Linked DNA regions of Homo sapiens. The protein of the gene in region 3 purifies or fractionates together with the protein of the main gene of each other region. This does not show direct contact. Each region holds a gene or a part of one and is shown on either strand. Other genes may lie near its edges. The genes, in order: HAUS5, C5orf34, CRYL1, MYO9A, SMG7, PIK3C2A and CEP164.

Evidence for each region.
Region 1: the proteins of CRYL1 (region 3) and HAUS5 purify together in Homo sapiens (affinity purification with mass spectrometry; 2 studies listed by BioGRID and IntAct, with this or other methods). This does not show direct contact.
Region 2: the proteins of CRYL1 (region 3) and C5orf34 purify together in Homo sapiens (affinity purification with mass spectrometry; 2 studies listed by BioGRID and IntAct, with this or other methods). This does not show direct contact.
Region 4: the proteins of CRYL1 (region 3) and MYO9A purify together in Homo sapiens (affinity purification with mass spectrometry; 2 studies listed by BioGRID and IntAct, with this or other methods). This does not show direct contact.
Region 5: the proteins of CRYL1 (region 3) and SMG7 purify together in Homo sapiens (affinity purification with mass spectrometry; 2 studies listed by BioGRID and IntAct, with this or other methods). This does not show direct contact.
Region 6: the proteins of CRYL1 (region 3) and PIK3C2A purify together in Homo sapiens (affinity purification with mass spectrometry; 2 studies listed by BioGRID and IntAct, with this or other methods). This does not show direct contact.
Region 7: the proteins of CRYL1 (region 3) and CEP164 purify together in Homo sapiens (affinity purification with mass spectrometry; 2 studies listed by BioGRID and IntAct, with this or other methods). This does not show direct contact.

What each region holds. Positions count from the first base shown.
Region 1 is NC_000019.10:35,611,358-35,615,534, forward strand, and holds the start of HAUS5 (HAUS augmin-like complex subunit 5), read left to right. Parts: upstream 1-1,377; 5' UTR 1,378-1,437; coding exon 1,438-1,535; intron 1,536-2,372; coding exon 2,373-2,435; intron 2,436-2,510; coding exon 2,511-2,543; intron 2,544-2,677; coding exon 2,678-2,702; exon of another isoform or gene 2,703-2,777; intron 2,778-3,684; coding exon 3,685-3,790; intron 3,791-3,869; coding exon 3,870-4,029; intron 4,030-4,177.
Region 2 is NC_000005.10:43,501,649-43,505,148, reverse strand, and holds part of C5orf34 (uncharacterized protein C5orf34), read left to right. Parts: intron 1-1,388; coding exon 1,389-1,484; intron 1,485-2,653; coding exon 2,654-2,777; intron 2,778-3,500.
Region 3 is NC_000013.11:20,407,358-20,410,857, forward strand, and holds part of CRYL1 (lambda-crystallin homolog), read right to left. Parts: intron 1-3,500. UniProt on the Homo sapiens protein: Has high L-gulonate 3-dehydrogenase activity. It also exhibits low dehydrogenase activity toward L-3-hydroxybutyrate (HBA) and L-threonate.
Region 4 is NC_000015.10:72,108,151-72,111,650, reverse strand, and holds part of MYO9A (unconventional myosin-IXa), read left to right. Parts: intron 1-3,500. UniProt on the Homo sapiens protein: Myosins are actin-based motor molecules with ATPase activity. Unconventional myosins serve in intracellular movements. Regulates Rho by stimulating it's GTPase activity in neurons.
Region 5 is NC_000001.11:183,475,499-183,478,998, reverse strand, and holds part of SMG7 (nonsense-mediated mRNA decay factor SMG7), read right to left. Parts: intron 1-3,500. UniProt on the Homo sapiens protein: Plays a role in nonsense-mediated mRNA decay. Recruits UPF1 to cytoplasmic mRNA decay bodies.
Region 6 is NC_000011.10:17,086,075-17,089,530, reverse strand, and holds the end of PIK3C2A (phosphatidylinositol 4-phosphate 3-kinase C2 domain-containing subunit alpha), read left to right. Parts: 3' UTR 1-2,956; downstream 2,957-3,456.
Region 7 is NC_000011.10:117,410,810-117,413,766, forward strand, and holds the end of CEP164 (centrosomal protein of 164 kDa), read left to right. Parts: intron 1-18; coding exon 19-85; intron 86-488; coding exon of another isoform or gene 489-513; exon of another isoform or gene 514-985; coding exon 986-1,108; intron 1,109-1,262; coding exon 1,263-1,359; 3' UTR 1,360-2,457; downstream 2,458-2,957. UniProt on the Homo sapiens protein: Plays a role in microtubule organization and/or maintenance for the formation of primary cilia (PC), a microtubule-based structure that protrudes from the surface of epithelial cells. Plays a critical role in G2/M checkpoint and nuclear divisions.

The DNA.
Region 1 (4,177 bases), on a different chromosome or scaffold from region 3:
CCACCTCCTGCCAGATCAGGAGCGGCATTAGATTCTTACAGGAGCGCAAACCCTATTGTGAACTGTGCATACGAAGGATCTAGATTGCGCACTCCTTATGAGAATCTAATGCTTAGGCGGGGCATGGTGGCTCACACCTGTAATGCTAGCACTTTGGGAGGCTGAGATGGGCTGATCACTTAAGGTCAGGAGTTCAAGACCAGCCTGGCCAACATGGTGAAACCCCGTCTCTACTAAAAATACAAAAATTAGCTGGGCATGGTAGCGGGCGCCTGTAATCCCAGCTACTCAGGAGGCTGAGGCAGTAGAATCGCTTGAACCCCGGAGGCAAAGATTGCGCTGAGCCGAGATCGGGCCACTGCACTCCAGCCTGGGTGAAAGAGGGAGACTTCACCTCAAAAAAAAAAACAGGGAAGAAAAAAAAAAAGAGAGAGAGAGACAGAGAATATAATGCCTCACGACCTGAAGTGGAACAGTTTCATCCCGAAACCATCCACTGCTCCCACCCTCCATCCCCCAGACTGTGGAAAAATTGTCTTCCATGAAACCAGTCCCTGATGCTCAAAAGGTTGGGGACTGCTGGTCTAGCGCAGACCTCTCACACCTGCTGTGTCCCAAATTGACCCACCCCTGCTGCTTATTTTTACCACCCCTACCTGGTGGTGCGTCTGTCTCCCCACTCAACTGTGAGCTCCGTACAATAGGGACCAGGGCTGTTGTGGTCACCATGGTGTCCCCAGCATCACCCAGCACAGGGTCAGCTCCCTGAGTTTATGGAATGGTAAGCACGAATGAATGGGAAAACGCATGCCAGGGAAATGTTAGGGTCATGCTCTCTGCCCCTACCCTCCACTCAGACATGAGACACCTGTTTCTGAAATCAAAGAGCAGTAAGTCCAGGATCTCATTGCCTGGTTCCAGTCCTCCTAGGACGCAAGTCCCATTTTGTCAAGAAAATAAAGGGGGTGAGCGTGGTGGCTCACGCCTGTAATCCCAACATTTTGGGAGGCCGAGGCGGGAGGATCGCTTGAGCCCAGGAGTTCAAGAGCCCAGAAGCTGAGACTAGCCTGGGCAACAAGTGAGATCCCATCTCTATTAAAATAAAAGTGTTTAGTTAAAAGAAGAAAAAGAAAATAAATGGAAGCATCAAGGACTGTTTTGCCTCTTTCGGGTTAGCTGGTAGTGAGCGGGAGAACGAGGGAAGGCGGGCGGGGCTGCAGTCTCTCCACGCCCTTTTCATTTCCACTCAAGGAGACCTACCTGGGAAGAGTGAGCGCTGCAAGACCCAGCCTGACCGCGCTAAGATTACTATGCAGCGCCCGAGCCCGCTGTCTGCCCGGCAACCGATGACGTCACTGTTGGCGCGCCCGTGACGTCAGAGGCGGGCGCCACACTTGAAGAGGCTGAGGGAGGCGGTGTCGCCGCCGCGGCGCTGTCATGGAGCTAGCGCAGGAAGCGCGGGAACTGGGTTGCTGGGCGGTCGAAGAGATGGGGGTGCCCGTGGCGGCCCGGGCCCCGGAATCGACGCTGCGCAGGTGAGGACCGCTCCTGGAGTGAGGACACCCCACCCTGGAGATTGAGTCTCCGGGAGTGAGAACTCCACCCCTCATTGAGGACTCGACTCCCCCCAATTCCCCATCGAGAGTGACCCGACTTACTGAGGGCTCCCTACCCTGGGAGGCTCCCCAGAGTGAGGTCCCTAGCACTGGTGAGGATCCTCCACGAGTTAGCTAAGACCTCGCTCCTTATGGAAATAGGATCTCCAGAGTGAGGCTGTCCCCGCAGCACCTCCCCTCCCTCCCTTAACCTAACCAAGAAGGACACTCAGGAGTTAGCCGTGGCCACCCCATCGGGGATTGAAGCTGTAGGAGTGATGCCCCACGTCTGGTCATGAGATGGCACTTCCTGGCAGTACATCCCCCACCTCCACCTCTGGATGTGACTGGGATAACCCACTCCCAGGAGAAAGGGAGCACCCGCCTCTCCCGCGCTCCCCCACCACCCGCCTTCCCAGGGAATGAGAATAACACCACACTTAGTGCAAACATCCAGTCCCTACAAAAAAAATGTTTTACCAATTAGCCGGGTGTAGTGGTGCCTGCCTGTAGTCCTAGCTACTCTGGAGGCTGAGGTGGGAGGATCGCATGAGCCCAGGAGGTTGAGGCTGCAAGGAGCTATGATCGTACCACTGCGACAGAGCGAGACTGTCTCTTAAAAAAAAAAAAAAAAAAAAGGCAAAAAAAAGTTTGGGCCTTCCCTCCTCAAGAAGTGAGAACTCCCTAGTAAAAACTCCCTACCACCATCACCCTAGGAATGAGGATCCCACACCCTGTGTGCTGCCCCAGGCATATGCTTACACACTGTCCCCACAGGCTGTGTCTGGGCCAGGGGGCTGACATCTGGGCCTACATCTTGCAGCATGTGCACAGTCAGAGGTAAGCTGGGCTAGAGCAGGGGAGGGGGCACAGGTGAGGCCCATAGTAACTCCTCTTTCTGCCTCTGCACTGTAGGACTGTCAAGAAGATCCGGGGAAACCTACTCTGGTAACTGCTTCTTAAAGCTATCCCCTCCTGTCTTCCCCACTCCCATTTAGCCCTGTCCCCACCACAGCATCACACCTATTGCCCTCCCCCCTAGAAGCCCCACTCATCCGCTGACTCTGGCCTCGTTTTCCTAGGTATGGCCACCAGGACAGTCCACAGGTGAGAAGCATATGCTACAAGATTCTCTTTCATCCGAAAAATGACTTGTAGATCTTCTGCTCTAAGCCCAACCAGGTGCTGGGTGATGCTGGGGACAATGGGTCACAAGACAGCCTTGATCTCCATCCTCATAGGGCTTAAAGTCCAGTGGAAACAGCATTAGCTCAGCCAGGTGCAGTGGCTCACACCTGTAATCCCAGCACTTTGGGAGGCTCACCTGAGGCCTCATCTCAGGTGATGAGATCACCTGAGGGCTCCAGGAAGCGATCAGTACTGGGACAAAGATGTGGTTTGGGAGGCGGATCACCTGAGGTCAGGAGTTCGAGACCAGCCTGGCCAACACGGTGAAGCCCTGTCTCTAATAAAAATAAAAAATTAGCCAGGCGTGGTGGCACACGCCTGTAATCCTAGCTACTTGGGAGGCTGAGGCAGGAGAATCGCTTGAACCTGGGAGGCAGAGGTTGCAGTGAGCTGAGATCGCACTACTGCACTCCAGCCTGGGCAATAGAGCGAGACTCTATCTCAAAAAAAGAAAAAATAAATAAAGAGCATTAATTAGCTGGGCGCAGAGAGGTGGGACCTGGATATGTGGCATCAAAGCTGGTGAGAAGAGATGATGGGACAGGTATGGGAGAGATGCTGAGGCCAGTGTGGGACCCAATGGGTGCAAGGGGCTCATATGACACCTAAGGGGAGGCTTCCAGGAGGCCTTGGGACTTCTAGGTGCAGGGCTCCGGGAAGAGATCAGTACTGGGACAAAGATGTGGTTGTCACCAGCACAGACAGGAAACAGGCTGGAAGTGTGGGTAAGACAATCCTAGGAGGAAGGAGGGAGGGAGCCAATACCCTAATGCTTCTGTGTCAGACACAGAAACTGCTGAGCAAAAACCCTCTGCCACCAGTTGAGGAGCCTGGTACCCCCAAAAGACAGGCCAGGCTGAGCCCCGATCAGACCATCTGACCCTGAATCTGATCCTCCCAGGTCCGTCGGAAGTTAGAGCTGGAAGCTGCTGTGACCCGCCTGCGGGCAGAAATCCAGGAACTCGACCAGAGCCTGGAGCTGATGGAGCGAGACACTGAGGCTCAGGGTGAGCCATGGGGCCAGAAGATGGGCACCAGAATGTGGGGCGGGAAAGGTGCTGATGGCCACCCCTGTTCCTCCCACAGACACGGCCATGGAGCAGGCACGTCAGCACACTCAAGACACCCAGCGTCGAGCTCTCCTCCTCCGGGCCCAAGCTGGGGCCATGCGAAGACAGCAGCATACGCTCCGAGATCCCATGCAGCGGCTGCAGAATCAACTGAGGCGCCTGCAGGACATGGAGAGGTGGGCCTCAGGGACCCACCCTCACCAGGCTGGGTGGCCAGACATTCTCTTAGAGACCTCAGGGCTCTGCCCTGATCCCTTCTTGGGTTCCAGAATTCTGGAACCATTAGGATGGAATGTCCATGAGGCCAGGAGGTTTTGTCATCTC
Region 2 (3,500 bases), on a different chromosome or scaffold from region 3:
AACAGTGCAAATCATAATGATAAAAACTAACACTTACAAAACACTTATGTGCCAGGTACTGTTGGACTTCACCCGTTTGATTCTCAAAGCATTCCCATGAAGTTAAAAAACGTATCATCCCTATATGTAGAGGAACTTGCGACATAGAAATGTTAAATAACTTGAGGAAAGGTACACAGCTAGTACTTGTAAAATTGAGATTTGATCCCAGGCAATCTCTGAGTATACATTTGTTATTTAAAACAAAAATATGGGAATGACTGTTAGGCTTGTCATGATTATCTGGTTAAAATGAGAAAAGTATTACGAGTACACATCAAAAGGGAATTATGCTTCAAAAGTAATGATTTTTCAATAACTTACCATGATGTTTAGGTTGAAATCCATGATCCTTCACATAGCTTACCAGGTCTTTTGTGACCTGGTCCCTTCCTATATCTGTAATCCTCAACTCTCTCACTACTCTTGCCCTTGCTTTCTCTATTCTTGCTAAGCTGGACTTTAGCAATCCCTAAAATGCTTGCTCAAGCACTCTGTGACCACTGCACCTACTCTTTACTCTGCAGGAGTGTTCTCTTTCTCTCTCAGCTGGCTAAATTATGCTCATTTCCAGGTTTCAGCTTAAACCTAACTTCTTTAGAGTGGTTTTCCTGAAGACCCTAAACAAGTTAAGTCCTATACAATTCCATAGCATGCAGTACTTGCCTCTTCTTTACACTCAATGTTTATTATTTAATGTCCCTGCTGAGGGCAGAGACCATGTCTACATTTTTTTGGTTGTTATATCCACAGTGTGTATAGCACAGTGCTTGGCCCACTATAGATATTTTAGTAATTTTTTTTTTTTTTTTTGAGATGGATTCTCGCTCTGTCACCCAGGCTGGCGCGATCTCAGCTCACTGCAACCTCCGCCTCCCGGGTTCAAGCGATTCTTCTGCCTCAGCCTCCTGAGTAGCTGGGATTACAGGCACGTGCCACTACGCCTAATTTTTGTATTTTTAGTAGAGACGGGTTTTCACCATGTTGGTCAGGCTGATCTCAAACTCCTGACCTCGTGATCCGCCCGCCTTGGCCTCCCAAAGTGCTGGGATTACAGGCATGAGCCACCATGCCTAGCGAATCCAGGCTAAATTTTAAATGTTATTAAAACTGTTAATTTATGTAATTGTGCTGAGATTCAATAATGAGATTATTGAAAATAGTGAAAAAAACATGGAAAAAGACTTGCTTTTTACATTTCATTAATATACCTTCATATTAATTTTTATTCTTTGATCTAGTGAGTTAAACAAGAAATTAATCCTGTTACAGTAGCAACATTTTGTTGACTTCTAAAGACAATTATATTGAGCAACCAGAAGTAATAGCTTGTATTTTATCCTTCACAGGTGGAATTTTTGTGATTCACTTTTACAGAGACAATCTGATGAATATTCCTATCCTGAACTAGTGAAAATGGTTTGGTACAAAGGTGTTACATATAGGTAAGGCACCTATGTTGGCTTCTATGTTGGAGTTAGAGCTGTTTATTGATGTCACAGAGAAGATGGGACGAGCCTTATAGACAGACTCTCAGAAGAGGACACAGTTCTGTTGGGCCAACTGTGCTCCTGTGTTTGATCCTGAGTTTTACAGGTCTCAAAACTAATGTTATTAGTGCACACAAGGGTCCTGTGACTCACTCACATTAACCATTTTTATAAGACTTATGTGGTACCTCCAAAGCCAATGAGGGATTGGTTTGCTAGTGAATGTAACATTCATATCAGTTATTTAGGATACTCCTTCCAAGCATTGGAGGATCAAGTTGTTTGAAATAGTCAAAACAGAATTGCTTGAGCATGGAATTAGAGAAGTTAGATCACCTAAGGGAGATTTTAGCCTTCATTCACAAAGCAAATACTCATTGAGTGGCCACTCTGTGCCAGCACTGTTCCATTGAATTATCCATACCCCACAACAAAGGACACCCTTCTAGTGACTAGAATACTAGTGTTAGCCAGATTGAGAGTTTCACTTCCATGAACAATGCTAGAAGAGCACTGCTAAATTTTTGGAGAGCGAGGGGGCTCTCCTTTTCCTATGTGAAGACCTATTCCTTCTAACAACATATTCTAACATGTATGTTAATAAAATTAACTTGGCTTAAGTTTCTATTTGGTATATACCCAGTACCTTGATTGTACCTGGCTGCTCCAGGTACAGCCATCTTTTCTTAGGGATAGCCCCTTGTGCAGACGGCTAATCTTATCCATAAAGTATTGATTCCGCTAGTTTCATTAATCTATTTTCAGGTTCTGGAAATGTTGTATTTAACACGTATGCAATAGACATTGCTTTGGTGACCCTTATATGCCAGCCTTGTGATTAGCAGTGGGGATATCAAGAAGATGATAAGACAAGATGCCTGAATTCCAGAAGTTCTTAGTTTAGTTGTTGAAATAAATGCATAAGCCAATTCTATTTATCTTTTCGTGAAAGAGTTAATTTAGCTGGTTGGGTTCAGAATATGAAATTATCTGCTTCACTGGACAGGCAAAAAGACTGTGTTGTTTTGCTTAGATTTTGTTGTTACTGTTTTTTGATGACTATCTTCATGCATGTTTTAATCTCAAGTGGAAAAAAATTTTTAATGGTTATTTCTATTTCTTAGACTTACCCATCAAAATATGAACTCAATAGAGATTTATTCTGGGGATGGATCTGTTTTCAAATCAGAAGGGGCTTATTTTGGGAACTATTTTACTTATTATTCTATTCAAGAAGGATCAGGAAAGGTAAGCCAACAATGAACTCAACTCAAGAAGAGTTTTGCTGTATAGCTCTTTCTAAATAATTCCAAATATATATGGGAAATTTGGTCATTATATAACATTGCTTCCTACTCCCCAGTCTGGAGTATTAATATAATCTTACTGCCAGCATTGGTACAGTAATTATTAACCACCTTATTTTTACTGTATTTTCACCTGCTATCTCCATTTGCCTAAGCAGTTCATGTTTAAATCAGAAACTTTCTTTTGTCATAGACTTTATTGATGGAAAATGCTGAAACCAGGACTTTGAGTTAATACACTACTTTGAATTAATATTTGTACATTAAAAAGCAAAAGCACATTCTTTTTTCCCCACCATGTAATTGTGTATTTTAAGCACCTCTTAACTTCTAAATCTTTATATACAACTAGACAGTTGAATAAGATTGTTCTCTGTTGCTGAAAACAGTGAAACATAACATGGTATAATTACCAGCCCATAGTCTTAATAATGTCAATATTTTGTTAATGAGTTTTAATTTGCTTATTGCCCCTCTGATATTTGACATCTACCATTTCACAGCAATCACTATAGTATCACACTACTTTGCATGCTAGAACAAAATAAGTATGTTTTCTCTCTTCATTACAGAGTGGAGTATTTAAATACTAATCAGATTATCAGAATCCCTAGGGAATAGAGTTAAAAATTGAGATTTTTTTAACTATGGAAATTTCAAACAT
Region 3 (3,500 bases):
TGCCTGATTATTTACAACCATGTCCCAGTAAACTTATGACTGTGACTGTTATTTGCAACTCCTCCCCTTCCATTTTAGGGAGGTGTAATTTATTTTCAACAATTATTTTGGCTTCTCTACACCACGAGAGGAGAATTGGGTGTAAATTACTCTAAAATGCCAATTTCTTTGGAAATAGGAAAAATACAACACAGCCCACTTCACTTTTGATCCCCTGGTCTGCCCTTCCCCACTATTTCTATCTAATCCAGCCTCCCCTGTATTTTTTCTTCTGTGCTTCCATGCCCTCTGTCCCTTTGAGTTCTAATTCTTCCAAAACCCTTGTAGAGCTTGGCTTTTTAGAAGATTCTGAACCTAATTTCTTAAGAGATGCTTATCCAGAAAAAGACAAAGAGTAGAAAAAAGAATTGATTCTCATGAGATTGGATGTAGCTTAACTTGCTGCTTTCTAACTTGCGAGCCTTGGGCTGTGGGCCTCTGAGGGACAGTGGGTTTGAATGCCCCAGGTGCACAGGCAGGAATCCTTTCTGTTCCCATGTATGCAGCAGGCACCAGAGGAGGCCTTAACCCCAGCCCGAGGCCACAGCCACTAGGAGGGATTCCAGGCATCAGCTCCTTGGAGAGCCTTAATTGCCACCCATACATGGGAAGTCCGGTTTTCTTTCACGCAGCTATGAACCCACACCTGTATGAATTCACCTGCTTTTTAGAGACAGGGTTTCACAGAACTCATTAAGGAAGATCAAAAATGCCTCAAAGCACAGAGCGACATTATCTCATTCCTACTCTCAGGATCAAATTCCCACCTGAGTGAGGACTTGCCCAGGGTAGGGGAGGCAGAACCGACCCGGGCCCCTCACCTCACCTCAGCAAGTCCCCGCCCATCAGCTCACCTGCTTCCACTGGCTGGCAAATAATTGCTTCCCATCAATCAACCAAACCCACCAGCCACCAGGCATCTCAGTTTTGAAAAAGGCAAGTGTCTACACAGGAGAGGAAATCTGTGAGGCAAAATGGTAAATAAACATCCACTTCCCCTGGAGGCGATTTCCACGCTGCCAGATTCTGAGATGTCCTCATTTCAAGTGGAACAAAATGCAGGAGGAACCCAAACAGCCCCAGGGACAAGGCTGAGCGGTTTCTCTCTCTACTGACCTGCGAGTCTAAAGCTTAGCAAAGAAACAAACCCGGCTGGGAAACTCTAGGTACCTGGTTCCAGAGGCTTCTCCATGCCATAGCAAAAATCCTAATCTTGTGATTTTTGTACATTGATTTTGTATCCTGAGACTTTGCTGAAGTTGCTTATCAGCTTAAGGAGATTTTGGCCTGCATTCTTATACACCAACAACAGACAAACAGAGAGCCAAATCATGAGTGAACTCCCATTCACAATTGCTTCAAAGAGAATAAAATACCTAGGAATCCAACTTACAAGGGATGTGAAGGACCTCTTCAAGGAGAACTACAAACCACTGCTCAAGGAAATAAAAGAGGATACAAACAAATGGAAGAGCATTCCATGCTCATGGGTAGGAAGAATCAATATCATGAAAATGGCCACACTGCCCAAGGTAATTTACAGATTCAATGCCATCCCCATCAAGCTACCAATGACTTTCTTCACAGAATTGGAAAAAACTACTTTAAAGTTCATATGGAACCAAAACAGAGCCCGCATCACCAAGTCAGTCCTAAGCCAAAAGAACAAAGCTGGAGGCATCACACTACCTGACTTCAAGCTATACTACAAGGCTACAGTAACCAAAACAGCATGGTACTGGTACCAAAACAGAGATATAGATCAATGGAACAGAACAGAGCCCTCAGAAATAATGCTGCATATCTACAACTATCTGATCTTTGACAAACCTGAGAAAAACAAGCAATGGGGAACGGATTCCCTATTTAATAAATGGTGCTGGGAAAACTGGCTAGCCATAGGTAGAAAGCTGAAACTGGATCCCTTCCTTACACCTTATACAAAAATCAATTCAAGATGGATTAAAGACTTAAACCATAAAAGACTTTAACATAAACCATTAAAGACTTTAAACCTAAAACCATAAAAACCCTAGAAGAAAACCTAGGCATTACCATTCAGGACATAGGCATGGGCAAGGACTTCATGTCTAAAACACCAAAAGCAATGGCAACAAAAGCCAAAATTGACAAATGGGATCTAATTAAACTCAAGAGCTTCTGCACAGCAAAAGAAACTACCATCAGAGTGAACAGGCAACCTACAAAATGGGAGAAAATTTTCACAACCTACTCATCTGACAAAGGGCTAATATCCAGAATCTACAATGAACTCAAACAAATTTACAAGAAAAAAGCAAACAACCCCATCAAAAAGTGGGCGAAGGACATGAACAGACACTTCTCAAAAGAAGACATTTATGCAGCCAAAAAACACATGAAAAAATGCTCACCATCACTGGCCATCAGAGAAATGCAAATCAAAACCACAATGAGATACCATCTCACACCAGTTAGAATGGCAATCATTAAAAAGTCAAGAAACAATAGGTGCCGGAGAGGATGTGGAGAAATAGGAACACTTTTACACTGTTGGTGGGACTGTAAACTAGTTCAACCATTGTGGAAGTCTGTGTGGCGATTCCTCAGGGATCTAGAACTAGAAATACCATTTGACCCAGCCATCCCATTACTGGGTATATACCCAAAGGACTATAAATCATGCTGCTATAAAGATACATGCACACGTATGTTTATAGCGGCATTATTCACAATAGCAAAGACTTGGAACCAACCCAAATGTCCAACAATGATAGACTGGATTAAGAAAATGTGGCACATATACACCATGGAATACTATGCAGCCATAAAAATGATGAGTTCATGTCCTCTGTAAGGACATGGATGAAATTGGAAATCATCATTCTCAGTAAACTATCGCAAGAACAAAAAAACCCAACACCGCATATTCTCACTCATAGGTGGGAATTGAACAATGAGAACACATGAACACAGGAAGGGGAACATCACACTCTGGGGACTGTAGTGGGGTGGGGGGAGGGGGGAGGGATAGCATTGGGAGATATACCTAATGCTAGATGACGAGTTAGTGGGTGCAGCGCACCAGCATGGCACATGTATACATATGTAACTAACCTGCACATTGTGCACATGTACCCTAAAACTTACAGTATAATAATAATAAATAAATAAATAAATAAAATCCTAATCTGTATTTATTCCTCTCTCTGCACTTGTGAATCTTTTTGGAAGAATTTTAAAAACCAAAAATAAAACAACAACGAAAAAAACTAGAAAAGTAGTACGTGAAAGAAACAAGACAAAGCTCTGTTTGAATATAACATATATTAAGGACTTAACAGGTGCCAGCAATCCAGCTAAGAGCTTCCATCTGGTTCAATTCTCACACCACCCTGAGGAAGCAGTTACTGTTGTCCCCATTTCACAGATGGGGAAACTGAGATGCAGTGAACTTAAGTCATTTGCCCAAGGTTATACAG
Region 4 (3,500 bases), on a different chromosome or scaffold from region 3:
AAAAAAAAAAAATTGGGGGTAATATTTGCCTCATAAGACTATCATTGGAGTTAAAAAAATTTTTATGTAAAGCACCAAGCATATAGTAGGTACTCAGTAAGTCTTCCTTTTCCCTCTTGAATACGTCTATTTCCTGTTTTATTTATTAATTTTTTTTTTTTTTTAAGACAATCTCACTCTGTCACCCAGGCTGGAGTGCAGTGGCGCAATCTCGGCTCACTGCAACCTCTGCCTCCTGGGTTCAAGTGATTCTCGTGCCTCAGCCTCCCGAGTAGCTGGGACTACAGGTGCACGCCACCATGCCCGGCTAATTTTGTATTTTTAGTAGAGACAGGATTTCACCATATTGACCAAGCTGGTCTTGAACTCCTGACCTCAAGCGATCTGCCTGCCTTGGCCTCCCAAAATGCTGGGATTATAGGTGTGAGCCACTGTGCGCAGCCTATTTCTTGTTATGTTTAAATGTGAAATCAATAATTTTTTTTTTTTTTTGAGATGGAGTCTCGCTCTGTTGCCCAGGCTGGAGTGCAGGGGTGCAATCTCGGCTCACTGCAAGCTCTGCCTCCCAGGTTCACGCCATTCTCCTGCCTCAGCCTCCCGAGTAGCTGGGAATACAGGCACCTGCCACCACTCCCGGCTAATTTTTTGTATTTTTAGTAGAGACAGGGCTTCACCATGTTAGTCAGGATGGTCTCGATCTCCTGACCTTGTGATCCGCCCGCTTCGGCCTCCCAAAGTGCTGGGATTACAGGCGTGAGCCACCATGCCCGGCCGAAATCAAGAATTTTAAGAATTTCACTGTGTGGCTTTTAGAATAAATGGCTAATCAAAGTTTGTTGCTAAAAGAAGCAGATATTAGGGCAGTCTGTCTACTAGTTGTCTTTCAAGTGTGATTTTTTTCAGTTAAAATATTTCTTGTGGCATTGGGGCATTTAAAAAATATTTTTGAAAAAATACTGCAAAGAAATGCTTCTCTTGATGTCTTAGCATATAAGATTAATGGATTTTAGAATGTATTTGATTCAGTGTGAGTTATCATAACAAAATGTGTTCTGTTTGTCAATGACAAACATTCCTTAAATAATTGACAGATTTTAGTACTATTGCTGTTTGTAGTGTGTAAGTATTTGTTTGAAATCTGTTTATTTTTATTGATCAGATGATAGTGGGCTGAGTAATCTCTGGAATTTTCTTTTTTTTTTTTTTTTTTTTTTTGAGATGGAGTCTTGCTCTGTCTCCCAGGCTGGAGTGCAGTGGTGCAATTTCGGCTCACTGCAACCTCCGGCTTCCGGGTTCAAGTGATTCTCCTGCCTCAGCCTCCCAAGTAGCTGGGATTACAGGTGCCTGCCACCGTGCCCAGCTAATTTTTGTATTTTTAGTAGAGATGGGGTTTTGCCATGTTGGCCAGGAAGGTCTTCAACTGCTGACCTCAGGTAATCTACCTGCCTCGGCCTCCCAAAGTGCTGGGATTACAGGTGTGAGCCACCACACCCGGCCTGGAATTTCCTTTTTGTTTTTTTCTTGAGACAGCATCTCACTGTATTGCCCAGGCTGGACTCAAGCTCCTGGGCTCAAGCAGTCCTCCCACTTCAACCTCCTGAGTAGCTGGTACTACAGATGTGTGCCACTACGCTGCCTGGCTAGATTTTTTTTTTTTTTTTAATGTAAGGGAGAAAGTTCTTAGGTGACTGTGTGGACATGTTTATAAACGATTTTTAGATTTTTTTTGCCTTATTTATTTATTTATTTTTTTGTGAGACAGAGTCTTGCTCTGTCGCCCAGGCTACAGTGCAGTGGTGCGATCTTGGCTCACTGCAGCCTCCACTTTCGAGGTTCAAGTGATTCTTGATTCTTGTGCCTCAGCGTCCCAAGTAGCTGGGATTACAGGTGTGTGCCACCACACTCAGCTAATTTTTGTATTTTTAATAGAGACAGGGTTTCACCATATTGGCCAGACTGGTCTCAAACTGCTGACCTCAAGCGATCCGCCTGCCTTGGCCTCCCAAAATGCTGTGATTACAGGCGTGAACCACTGCACCCGACTAATATTTTTGTCTTATTTTGCTTTTGCAACTCTGTTTTCTTTTAGTTCTCTTTCTTCCCTCCCCTATTGTTTTATAATTAAGATCTTAAAGAAATAGAAAAGTTGGAAGAGAACACTAATTATGTCTATCAACTAGATTCAAAAGATAGCGTTATGCCATCCATATTTGCATTATTGTTCCCTGTGTGATTGTGTGTGTGTATTTTTTTTTTTTTTTTAGACAGAGCCTTGCTCTGTCACCCAGGCTGGAGTGCAGTGGCATGATCTTGGCTCACTGCATGCTCCACCTCCTGGGTTCACACCATTCTCCTGCCTCAGCCTCCCGAGTAGCTGGGACTACAGGCACCCGCCACCACGCCTGGCTAATTTTTTATATTTTTAGTAGAGGTGGCGTTTCACGGTGTTAGTCAGGATGGTCTCGACCTCCTGACCTCATGATCTGCCTGCTGCCTCGGCCTCCCAGAATGCTGGGATTACAGGCCTGAGCCACCACGCCCGGCTGTGATTGTATATATTTTTGCAGAACCTTTTGAAAGTAAGTTGCGGCTGGGTGCCGTGACTCACATCTGTAACCCCAGCACTTTGGAAAGCCGAGGCAGGTGGATCACCTGAGGTCAGGAGTTTGAGACCAGCCTGGCCAACATGGTGAAACCCTGTCTTTACTAAAAATACAAAAATTAGCTGGGCGTGGTGGTGGGTGCTTATAATCCCAGCTACTCGGGAGACTGAGGCAGGAGAATCACTTCAACCTGGGAGGTGGAGGTTGTGGTGAGCTGAGATTGCACCATTGCCCTCCAGCCTGGGTGACAAGAGTGAAACTCTGTCTCAAAAAAAAAAAAAAAAATGTATGTGTCATGACAAGTTTACTGCAAAATACTTCGTATATATTTTCTAAGAAATACATATTTTTCGTATCACCAGTGTGCTATTACCAACACCTAGGAAAAATAATACCCTAATTTAATATTGAATTTATATTTGAATTTTCCCAACTGTCCTGAAAAATGTTTTTTTCAAAAGAGAACTCACTTTTAGTTTTTGCATTTCATTTGATTATCTCTTTTTAGTCTCTCAATGTAGGAAGTTCCTTCCCACATTTCTCTTCCCTGTGACATTGAAATGTCTTTGAAGAGACCAATCATCTTGTAGAATGGCCTGTTTTCTAGAGTTTTCTGATTGTTTCTTAGATTGTTTAACTTGTTCTTCTGGTGCTTGTATGTCCTGTAAACTGGAAGTTATATTGTAAAGGATTGAATAGATTCATATTAAAAAGTTTTGGCAAGAACACTCTGTAGGTGATGTTGTATATCATGTTGTGTGTTAATGGGAGGCACATAATGTCAGCTGTCCTCCTATCAGTGATGTAAGTTCGATAGGTTTAAGGTGGTGTTTGCTTATGTCTCCATTTTAAAAGTAAATTTTTTCTCCTGTTATGTACAATAATCTGTGGGACTGA
Region 5 (3,500 bases), on a different chromosome or scaffold from region 3:
TGCTTAGTTACAATTTCCCAGACAGCTGATAAGTCTATTCATAACAATACAGCAACTAAACTAAAATATGGCTTGACTGCAAAACTTTAATGGCAATATATAATGGCCATCTGCCAATATACCTACAAACAGATGAATAATCCACTATCTACAAGACGTATGCTTTATAATTTATTCTCTACACAAGATCAATTAAACTAACCCATCTAAACTTTCAGGCACTCATTCATGACACTAATACAAAAATTTGAAAGGCTAGCCGGAGGCAGGAAACAATTTTTCTCAAGTATAAAACACACCAGCCCTTTTAAAGTGTGAACCACTCTCCACCTCAAAACTGCCTCATGAAACTTGCAATACTAGTGGGTCCAGATCTTACTGTAACACATCCATTAAAAACAACAACATAAAACTCAGCAATTGCTTCTTCTACCATGAAGGCAGAAGACCACAGCTGTTAGAAAGCAAAGAAATGAAACCTAAGATAGGACAGGAAGTATACATTTTGAATCCAAATGAAACCACAAGGGAAGCAGAAATTAACTGCCAAAATAATTTAGTCAGACAATATCCAAGCAGGTAATAAGCTATTAACACTGTTATAACAAAGACTTATAAGCCTAAAGAGACAGTCATTCATTCAAAAAATGTCACCACCTTTGGCTGATATTCCGGGACAAAAGCTACTTTACATTCTGTAAAGCATGTACCTGGTGGAAAGGAAGGGGATGGGGCAGGTGAAGAAGACTTCGTGGACCACATGGACTAAAATCAGCATGTGCTCTAAGACTTCTAGAAGCTTCAGGATACAGTGACTATCTGATCTAGCATTACTAGACTCTTCTAGAACCTGGAGACCATCCTATTTATATATTCCTCCCAATGCTCCCACTATCTTCTCTGTTCCTCTCCCCAGGCTAGGATAAGGCTTAGCTTGCTACTTTATCCAGCCTTATCTCCACTATCTCTCTGTTTCAAGATTTATAGTGATACATTTTTATTTTATACCATATTGGATATTTTACTTCCTATTTAAATGACAACCATTTTTCTGCTGGCTTAGAAAACAACCCTGTGGCTGTTATATTAGTAACAAAACTTCTGACAAGTGAGCCACTGAGATGCAGCGTCTTCACTATACATGTATCATACAAAAAATATATGTATATATACACACATATGTGCATAGACACATATACATATATGTATACATACACACATACACACATGTATATATGCACACATATGCACACACATGTATATATGCATATATACACATGCACACACGTATATATGCATATATACACATATGCACACACGTATATATGCATATATACACATATGCACACACGTATATATGCATATATACACATATGCACACACGTATATATGCATATATACACATATGCACACACGTATATATGCATATATACACATATGCACACACGTATATATGCATATATACACATATGCACACACATGTATATATGCATATATACACATATGCACACACGTGTATATATGCATATATACACATATGCACACATGTATATATGTATATATACACATATGCACACATACACACACACACACACACACAAAACAAAACAGATACTTTCTGGACCTTTCCTGTAAAGGAGTCTAACAGTAGGAATCCACTTCAAGTGGATCTCACTGAAACACTCACAGCATAGGAAGAAATTAGAGACAAAAGAGAATAGTGAAGGAAGAAAAGGAGGAAAGTTGAAGGGAGCATAGAGTATGAACAGTGGCTCCCACAATGGCAGCAGAAGTCATTCGGTGGCACCTGTGCCACCTTTTATAACAGGATTTGACCTGTTTGACTGGTATTCCCTATAGCTATGATTATTCTACTTTCTCATCTTCCAAAACAACTTTGATGTCTTCTCTGTCTGGTACTTTAATACTTCCCCCACTCCTGCTTTTCCAACTTTGATATGTTAATTTCCACTTTTCTTTTTTTCAAAATGCCATTATTTTAAAGCATAATATTATACCTCACCTGCGGCCTATCCTAACCTTCTCCTACCCCCATCAAATGAATTGTATTCAATACACCCTTTCTTTTACTCAACAGAGGTGTCAAAGTCTTTTAAAATCTTTCATTCTGTCATAAATCAAAAGAGAAAATACTCTGAATTCTCCTTCAATTTGAGTAATAAATTCCCAATGTTATTCGGCCTAGAACCCTCATATTTAAGATCATATTTTTATTTTTATAAAACATAACAAAGTATTTTCAACTTAACTGATTCTCTTAGAAGTCTTGTCAGTGTATTAAAAAGATACTTACCTTTCAACAAACAAAAAATTTCATTATCCTTTCCTGCCCAGAATATCATCATCTTTCCCACATAGAAGATAGGTTTTCTTCCTTTCATCTCTGCTCTATTTTTATAACTTGAGACTAATTCAGTTCCCTTGATGTTGAATTCTCTCTTTATTGGTCTTACTGGGACTTCTTGCCTCCTATCTTCATTTCTGACCCTTCTGAAACAGCCATCTTGCTCCTTGGTTTCCCACCACCCCACCATTTCAATGCCAGACATCCCAGCTCATTTACTCTAACAAATTAAAATTCAGCCAAGACAAAACTAATTTTCATCTACATGAGGCAGGATCTGTAGCTATAGAGATTAAAAATTGCCCAGTCATGATCTTCCACCACTGACAAAGGTAGGCAAGAAAATTCTTCAAGTCAAGGTCACGAAAACAATTGCTACACCCCCCAACCACATCCATTCAGCAATACTCGGCATCCTCCCTGAAGTGTCTATAAAAACCAACAGTTCTATTTTCAAAGAACGTGAACATAATGCTTCCCTAAAGACATTCTCTAGTGTCCCCACTGCAGACTTTAAATGGAATGATTATCTAAAAGAGGAGGAGGGAAATTCAGACTGGCACAAGCCTTTATGATTCCCACAACCACCACCTAGGTCTCAGACTTCTAACACTTGTTTTAATTTACTTAGGACAAATGCCTAAGATTGAGACAAGACTGGCTCCAGGAATCTTTAAGGGACCCCAGGACCTATGCCTCCCCCATTTTGCCTGCTCAATTTTAGCTGAAAAATATCATTGTATTCATTTTTTTTCTCCCTTCTTCAAAGAACTAAGTTCATCTCAAACTATCATTGATTCCACATCTAAGGAAGTCTTCCCTACCATGTCAAGCTATAAAATATAAGGCACATTAACAAGAAGCCTCTCAAAGTCCACTGATCTTCCCCATTAAAAGTACCACCACTCTGCCAATTTGTTTTTCATAACTTTCTAGATCCACTGCCAGTACCTTATTCAGGACCAAAGTCCCAAAGGGAATCTTTTGTAAGGAAAAGAACCTTACAAAAAGGACCAATTTTGAAGTCTTCCCCTTTTCTAAGCAGTAGTCACTCCCCAATTAATGTCAGGCTCTAACAACCTTACTTTTCTCTGTTATCCACCACTACATTACACAGAGTCATTTTCCTAACACA
Region 6 (3,456 bases), on a different chromosome or scaffold from region 3:
AAGCCATTGCTGTTTTAAAGTCATTATGTAGAATGCTACAAACCCTAAACTTAATATATACTAATTCCTGAAAAAGACTTTGAGACAGTACTATGTCAGTTCAGCCACCTATTTTGCATTGTTTTCTATAAGGAGGCAAAGCATATGTGTTTTCCTGTTATGCACCTTTTATAGCCTTTACCACTGTGTAATGTTCACAAACACCAAAGTAAAGGAAAAATGCAGGATGTTACCGTAAAATCCAGCTGCTATTCATGGAGCTGAAAAACAAAGCACAAATAATAGATAGCTAAGTTAAGAACTACTAAGTAGTTTATAGAAGTAGGGAAAAACGTAATACTGCTTTTTATTCATGTCTTTAAAGCCTTTTTCAGAATAAGTGCCAATCACTGATGTTGTAAATAATGGTGCCTTAACTTTATATGCTTCCCTGGCACTTCGTTTCTGATTTTTTTCCTGATTTGATAAATAATTAGTACATAGTTTTCACTCACTTGCAGCTTACTAAAGACAAGAAATTATGTACATGTACTAATGTTTTTCCCACAAAAAAATCCTTTACTTCTGATGTATGAATTAGTTATCTAAATAGTTAAGCCTAATACCTGAATAAGACTCACCAATGTGATTGTACAATAAATTCTATCATTCCATTAAAATCCTACATTTATTCCCAGGAATGGTAATTTCACCTCCCTACATCTATACTCCACTCCCTCAGTAAATAAGTGAAAATTGTTAACCCATGTGCCCATTCCTGAGTAGGGCAGACTCTTCACAAGAGGCCCATGACAAGAATTCTAGGGTCCAGATTGAACTTTAATATAGACCTTTGTCTGTGTAGACCAGTTTGTCTTGTAAACTGTCTTACTTATGTGTGTAAACATTTTACATTCACATGAAAAGTTATTTTCCTTTATATAATTGGATTCAGAATCATAAGGGACAGGACTGAAATTATTCTACAGTAACCAGTAAGAATAAGATTCGGCCGGGCACGGTGGCTCCTGCCTGTAATCCCAACACTTTGGGAGGCCAAGGTGGGCGGATCACCTGAGGTCAGGAGTTTGAGACCAGCCTGGCCAACATGGTGAAACCCCGTCTCTACACAAAAATTAGCCAGGCGTGGTAGCGGGCATCTGTAATCCCAGCTACTTGGGGGGCTGAGGCAGGAGAATCGCTTGAACCCAGGAGGCGGAGGTTGCAGTGAGCCGAGATCACGCCACTGCACTCCCGCCTGGGTGACAAGAGCAAAACTCCATCTTAAAAAAAAAGAAAAAAAGAGTAAGATTCATTTTTATTAGTTACTCAACTTCAGACACAATTTTGTTAATTTGGATATATACATATATATAATAAGAACTCATGGTTAGAATAGAAATACAGATACTTTAAAAATGGTAATAGAAATTGTACCAATCAGGTTGCTGTGAGAAAACTGACAAAATATGCAATAAAGAATACCAAGAGAGAAAGGACAATCGCCAATTCAGTTTCCCAGAACAGAATTTTTATGAACTGCACAAATGTTTAATGTAAATGGTGATACCTACAGGGAAGAAATAGAAGAGTTGATAATATATCACTGGGACGGGGTGGGGGAAAGACTTGAAATTTTTGGTGCCTAACACTAATGGTCCATATGTAGTTAAACCCATGAGTATGGTATATGAATGTCTTTTTTAAATGTTAAAATGTGTTGTCTATTTAATGTTAATTAAAATGCAGATCAAAGCACCACCATTTGCTTTTTCCACAGATCATTAACATTTCCTTAAAGTATGTAAGTACCTTTGCAAATGCAAATGTACTAGTAATTTTCACTTAAGCTTTTGAGACCGAATTCCATTCCACCAGTTATCACTTAGCCACTGTAATTTAAAAACAAACAAACAAACAAAAACTGTCTTGGTAGAGGTCGTTAATTAGACTCAACATGTACTGCCTTTTTGCAGTCTATTATGACAGTGTCTTTTAGCACAAATAATAGAGCTAAAAAATGTCCTGTCACTTCCATTATAAGAAATCTGGATTCATATCTAAGTGTATATTATAATACTGTACAGTTAAGAGTTCAGAACAAGTGGTAATGTTTTCTCTTAATTTAACTCATTTTGTGCCTTCTTTACTCATTCAAACACACATACATTTTACATATAGTTTATTTCTTTATGAAATGCTAATCTTCAGCCCGTACCAAAAAGTAGAGTGGAGCCTCTTTGCACTACTACTATCAATAAATTTTAAATCAGTTGGATTTTTAAGCATTTTTTAAAAGCTGACATTAAAGTAAATCTAAAAAAAGTTTAACAAACTGGCCAAGACACTAATTTTTATGTATAATCACAATATTTTATACTCACCTTTATTGACTAAAAATAATTATGCTACATGTTGTCCTGCATCAGAAGAATTATTTCTTCTTGCCAGTGTTTTGGGATTTGAAGATAATGGTTCACTCAAAGAACCTATTATTTTCTCTACTGAGGAACCCAATGTAGAACTTGCACTGATATTTTTATTACTGCCTTTATATGAATCTATAGGTATCTAAATGTTAAGGCATGTATGATCTTTGATCATTTCTTTTTTCAAATTAAAGTTGTATAAAAGTTTCAATATCTTGCCTTAAATTAGTTGCCTATTCTTTCTAGGATTCAAATATTGTGACATTTAAAAAAGAAAACATTCACTTTTGAAACTTAGACTTCAGATCAAAAAGGACTGAACCCCCACTATCATAATCCATACATTCATTTCCATGTTGTTTGACTAGCAGTGCATATATGAATGAATATGGTAATTAATCTTACCTATAAGAACCAAATACTTTAATTATATTAAGATAGTGAATAAAGATGTATAATATTTTTATTAATACCTTGAATATATTCAGTGGATTGAATGTGACTTCATAACTGTACTACGATTGTATTAAAATATTTCTGGAATAAAAGAACTCTGCTATCATTTCTTTCCTTGTTGACATACTAACATTTTTGGTTCCAGACTTTGCAATGAGCTCACTCTTGATGTTCTTTGCATCTCACCCAGGAGTCTATTAGGTTTAATAATCCTGAATTTCAGAACTAACCTGTTAGTTGCCCCTAAAAATGTTCAAATAGAGATTCTGACTTCTGAGTGTTAACTCTTTTTTTTTTTTGAGACAGAGTCTTACTTTGTCTCCCAGGCCTGGAGTGCAGTGGCGACATCTCGGCTCACTGCAACCTCCATCTCCTGGGTTAAAGCGATTCTCCTGCCTCAGCTTCCTGAGTAGCTGGAACTACAGGCACACACAACCACGCCCGGCTAATTTTTGTATTTTTAGTGTAGCAGGACAAGCCGCAGACAAAACTCCTCAGACGCGGAGTTAAAGGAAGGGGTTTATTCGGCCGCGGGCATTGGCAAGACTCCTGTCTCGAGCCGAGCCCCCCCAGGGAGCAATTCCTGTCCCTT
Region 7 (2,957 bases), on a different chromosome or scaffold from region 3:
GTCCCCATGCTCTTCCAGCTGGCATCCCGCTGCTCAGCAACAGCCCCACCCCGCTGGAGAGCAGGCTGGGTTACATGTCTGCCAGGTGAGCCTCCCTGGGGGCTGGTTGGGGTGGAACGTCATAGTCGAGCTGCTCACTGTGCCTCCCTGGGCAGGTGGACCTCTGAGGGGAGCAGACCTCCTGGTCTTACCCCAAGAAATCAGGCAGGCCTCTAGTCCACAGAGCTGTCCCCGCTTGCCTGGGTCTGAGGCGCCCCTCCATGACCAGGGGAAAGTCAAGTTCACACCGCCAAGGTCCCAGTGGGGAAGGGCTGGGCTTACCCTGCCAACCCCCTGAGGAAGCTGCCCTCTGGCCCCTGTGGGGAGGAGTCAGCCCCTGGTGGGACCCTGCCCCCGCCCCTCCCTCTAGCCCCTCCAGCCCCGGAGTCTGGCCTTTGTCTTTGCCCTTGAGCTCTTGTTTGCTTCCTGTGGCTCCCTTATTCCCCCAGTCCTGCTGAGCAACATCTGGAGTGAGAGGGACACCCTGTGGAGGAGACAGACGGGCAATTATTTAAACCTGTTATTAATTTTCCATTCATCTCATTCCTTGCCAAATGTTTTCCCCTCTCCCTCCCTTAGGCAGCTAACAGTGAGTACCCCCCACTAACCCTTTGGCCAACTTGAGAGCTGATGCTGGCCAAGGATTGAGTTGACAGAGGGGAGCGCTTTGCTGATGAGATTGGCGGGAGCAGGCGGATGTGGGAGCCCAGAGCCTTGTATCAGTAGCACCCAGCAAGGGGGCAGAGGGCCTCCACCACTTTCCCGTTTGGGAACTGTTCTGGAGGGGCAGATGTTTTGAAGCTTTGAATTGCTAGGGACCTCGGAGAAGCTGCTCTGGTAGCTGAGAGAAAGAGGGAGGAGGTGACAGATGTGATGGCCTCTGTGCATCCTCTGTCACTTCCGCGCCTCCTCTCTCCCCTCGCCATGCTCTCCTCTTCCTTCCCAGTGAGCAGCTCCGGCTCCTACAGCACTCCCATTCGCAAGTCCCTGAGGCGGGCAGCACCACCTTTCAGGGCATAATTGAGGCCAACCGGAGGTGGCTGGAACGTGTCAAGAATGACCCCAGGTTGTATCCTTTTACCTGGTTCCCAAACTGGGCTGGGCTGTGGGGACTGTGCTTGTGCCCTGAGGGGCTGAGGAGGATCCTGTTCAGCCTTTGACCCTTTCATGGCCCCTGCCTGGCTATGCCCAGCGACTGCAGTTTTCCTTCACCTTGTGGCCAGACCTCTCTTCTCGTCAACACCCAAGCCAAAAGCTACTTTGAGCCTCCTGCAGCTGGGCCTTGATGAGCACAACAGAGTGAAGGTGTATCGCTTCTGAGGCCCTGAGCAGGGGCTTGGGGCAGCCCAGCCTCTCCTCCACCCAGACCAAGTGCCTGAGGAGCTGCCTGCCTTCTTCCATCTGAGAAAGCACCCTCCTTCCCCCTTTGACTTGCAGGAGCCACCAGGGACCAGGGGGTTGAGTGGAACAGTAAAGCCACACATTCTGTGACTATATAACCTATCTCAGGCTAAAATGTGTGGACTCGTACGAGCTCTTGTCATTGACATGGCAAGCTGATGGCGTGCGGTGGCTGCGGGGTATCAGGGCCGGGAGCCCTTTGGGAGGAAGGGAGGCGTTAGAGGAGCTGCCTTCGGAGGCTCAGGGAGTCCCTTTGGAGCTGGTTGTTTCCTTGGCCCTGCAGCGCACTGCTCGGGGCTCCCAAGGAGGTTGTGTGTATGGTTCTTAATTCATCAGGACAAAGACCCCCAGCATGTGTGTACCCTGGGACCCGATTTCTCTGGGCCCACATCTATCTCCAATACCTCAGCCTCAGATCAGACCCTTTCTTTTTTGTCTTTCTTCTCTTAATTTTTAAATGCCTCTTTTCTTGAGCATTCCATCTCTCTTTTTGACCCTCTCAGGACTGGGCTTAGCTGTCCAGAGCCCTGCCGGAGGGTGCTGGGGGCTGTCCCTCTGCAGGCACTGTGTTTTCCTCAGGGGCTGTCCTCAGAACACCCCTCCTGCTCCCTGGGGCTCCTCAGGGAGCCATTTCAGCTGGAGTCTCAGGTCTCAAAAACAACTTCTCCAGGAGGCCAAAAAAAGACTGGGTTGGCTTCTGGTCCTCATGATGGCTTTTATCCTCCTGGGACACTTTGGGTATATTCATGGGCATTGTTTCCATCTGTCTTTTCTACCTGTGCCACCCCTGCCCTGATTCCACGGCTGCCTCAGGCAGGCAGGCAAGGAGCTAGGCCGGTGCCCGGCCCTGGCAGCAAGGGGTCTTTGTGCAGTTGGAGATGCTGCCGTTGTGGCAGAGCGTCCTGCAGCCCCGCTTCCATCAGCAGGCTCTGGGGTGGGGGCTTTGCAGGGGATGCTCTCTGATGTTTGTTCCGTTGTTTAAATAAAATGCACTTATTTTTGTTTTTTTTTTTGCAAGCTGTGGGGTTGCCCTTGCTTCTCTGACACACAAATTAACTCCTTCCGTCCTCCAACTCATTTCGTGGTCATGGAATAAGAAACTAAGATCCAACTGGCTGTTGATCTCCTCAGATGCCTTTTAAGCATCAGCCCACTACATAGAAAACTCCGTTTCATCATGTGTGCTTTGGGAATAGCTTATGTGGTGCACCAACTCTAGTGATAATCCTGGGTATTTTCTGCATCATTTAAATCTCTGCAGGTCCATTTTCTACAAGGCAGTCATGTAAATGTGTCTCCTTCTTTTGGGAGGCCTTTGCCTCCTTCCTGAGAAGGGAGGAAGGAAAAATGAATATTCATAGAACACTGCCCTATGTAGTATCTGATTTAATCATCGCAACAATGTAGATATTGATGTAGATATTTTCTCCTCTGTTTTTATGGACGAGGAAACCAAGGCTTAGAGAACCTTTACATGCCTGGGGTCCCCAGTAAAGTAGCTGAGCTCCCTACATGTG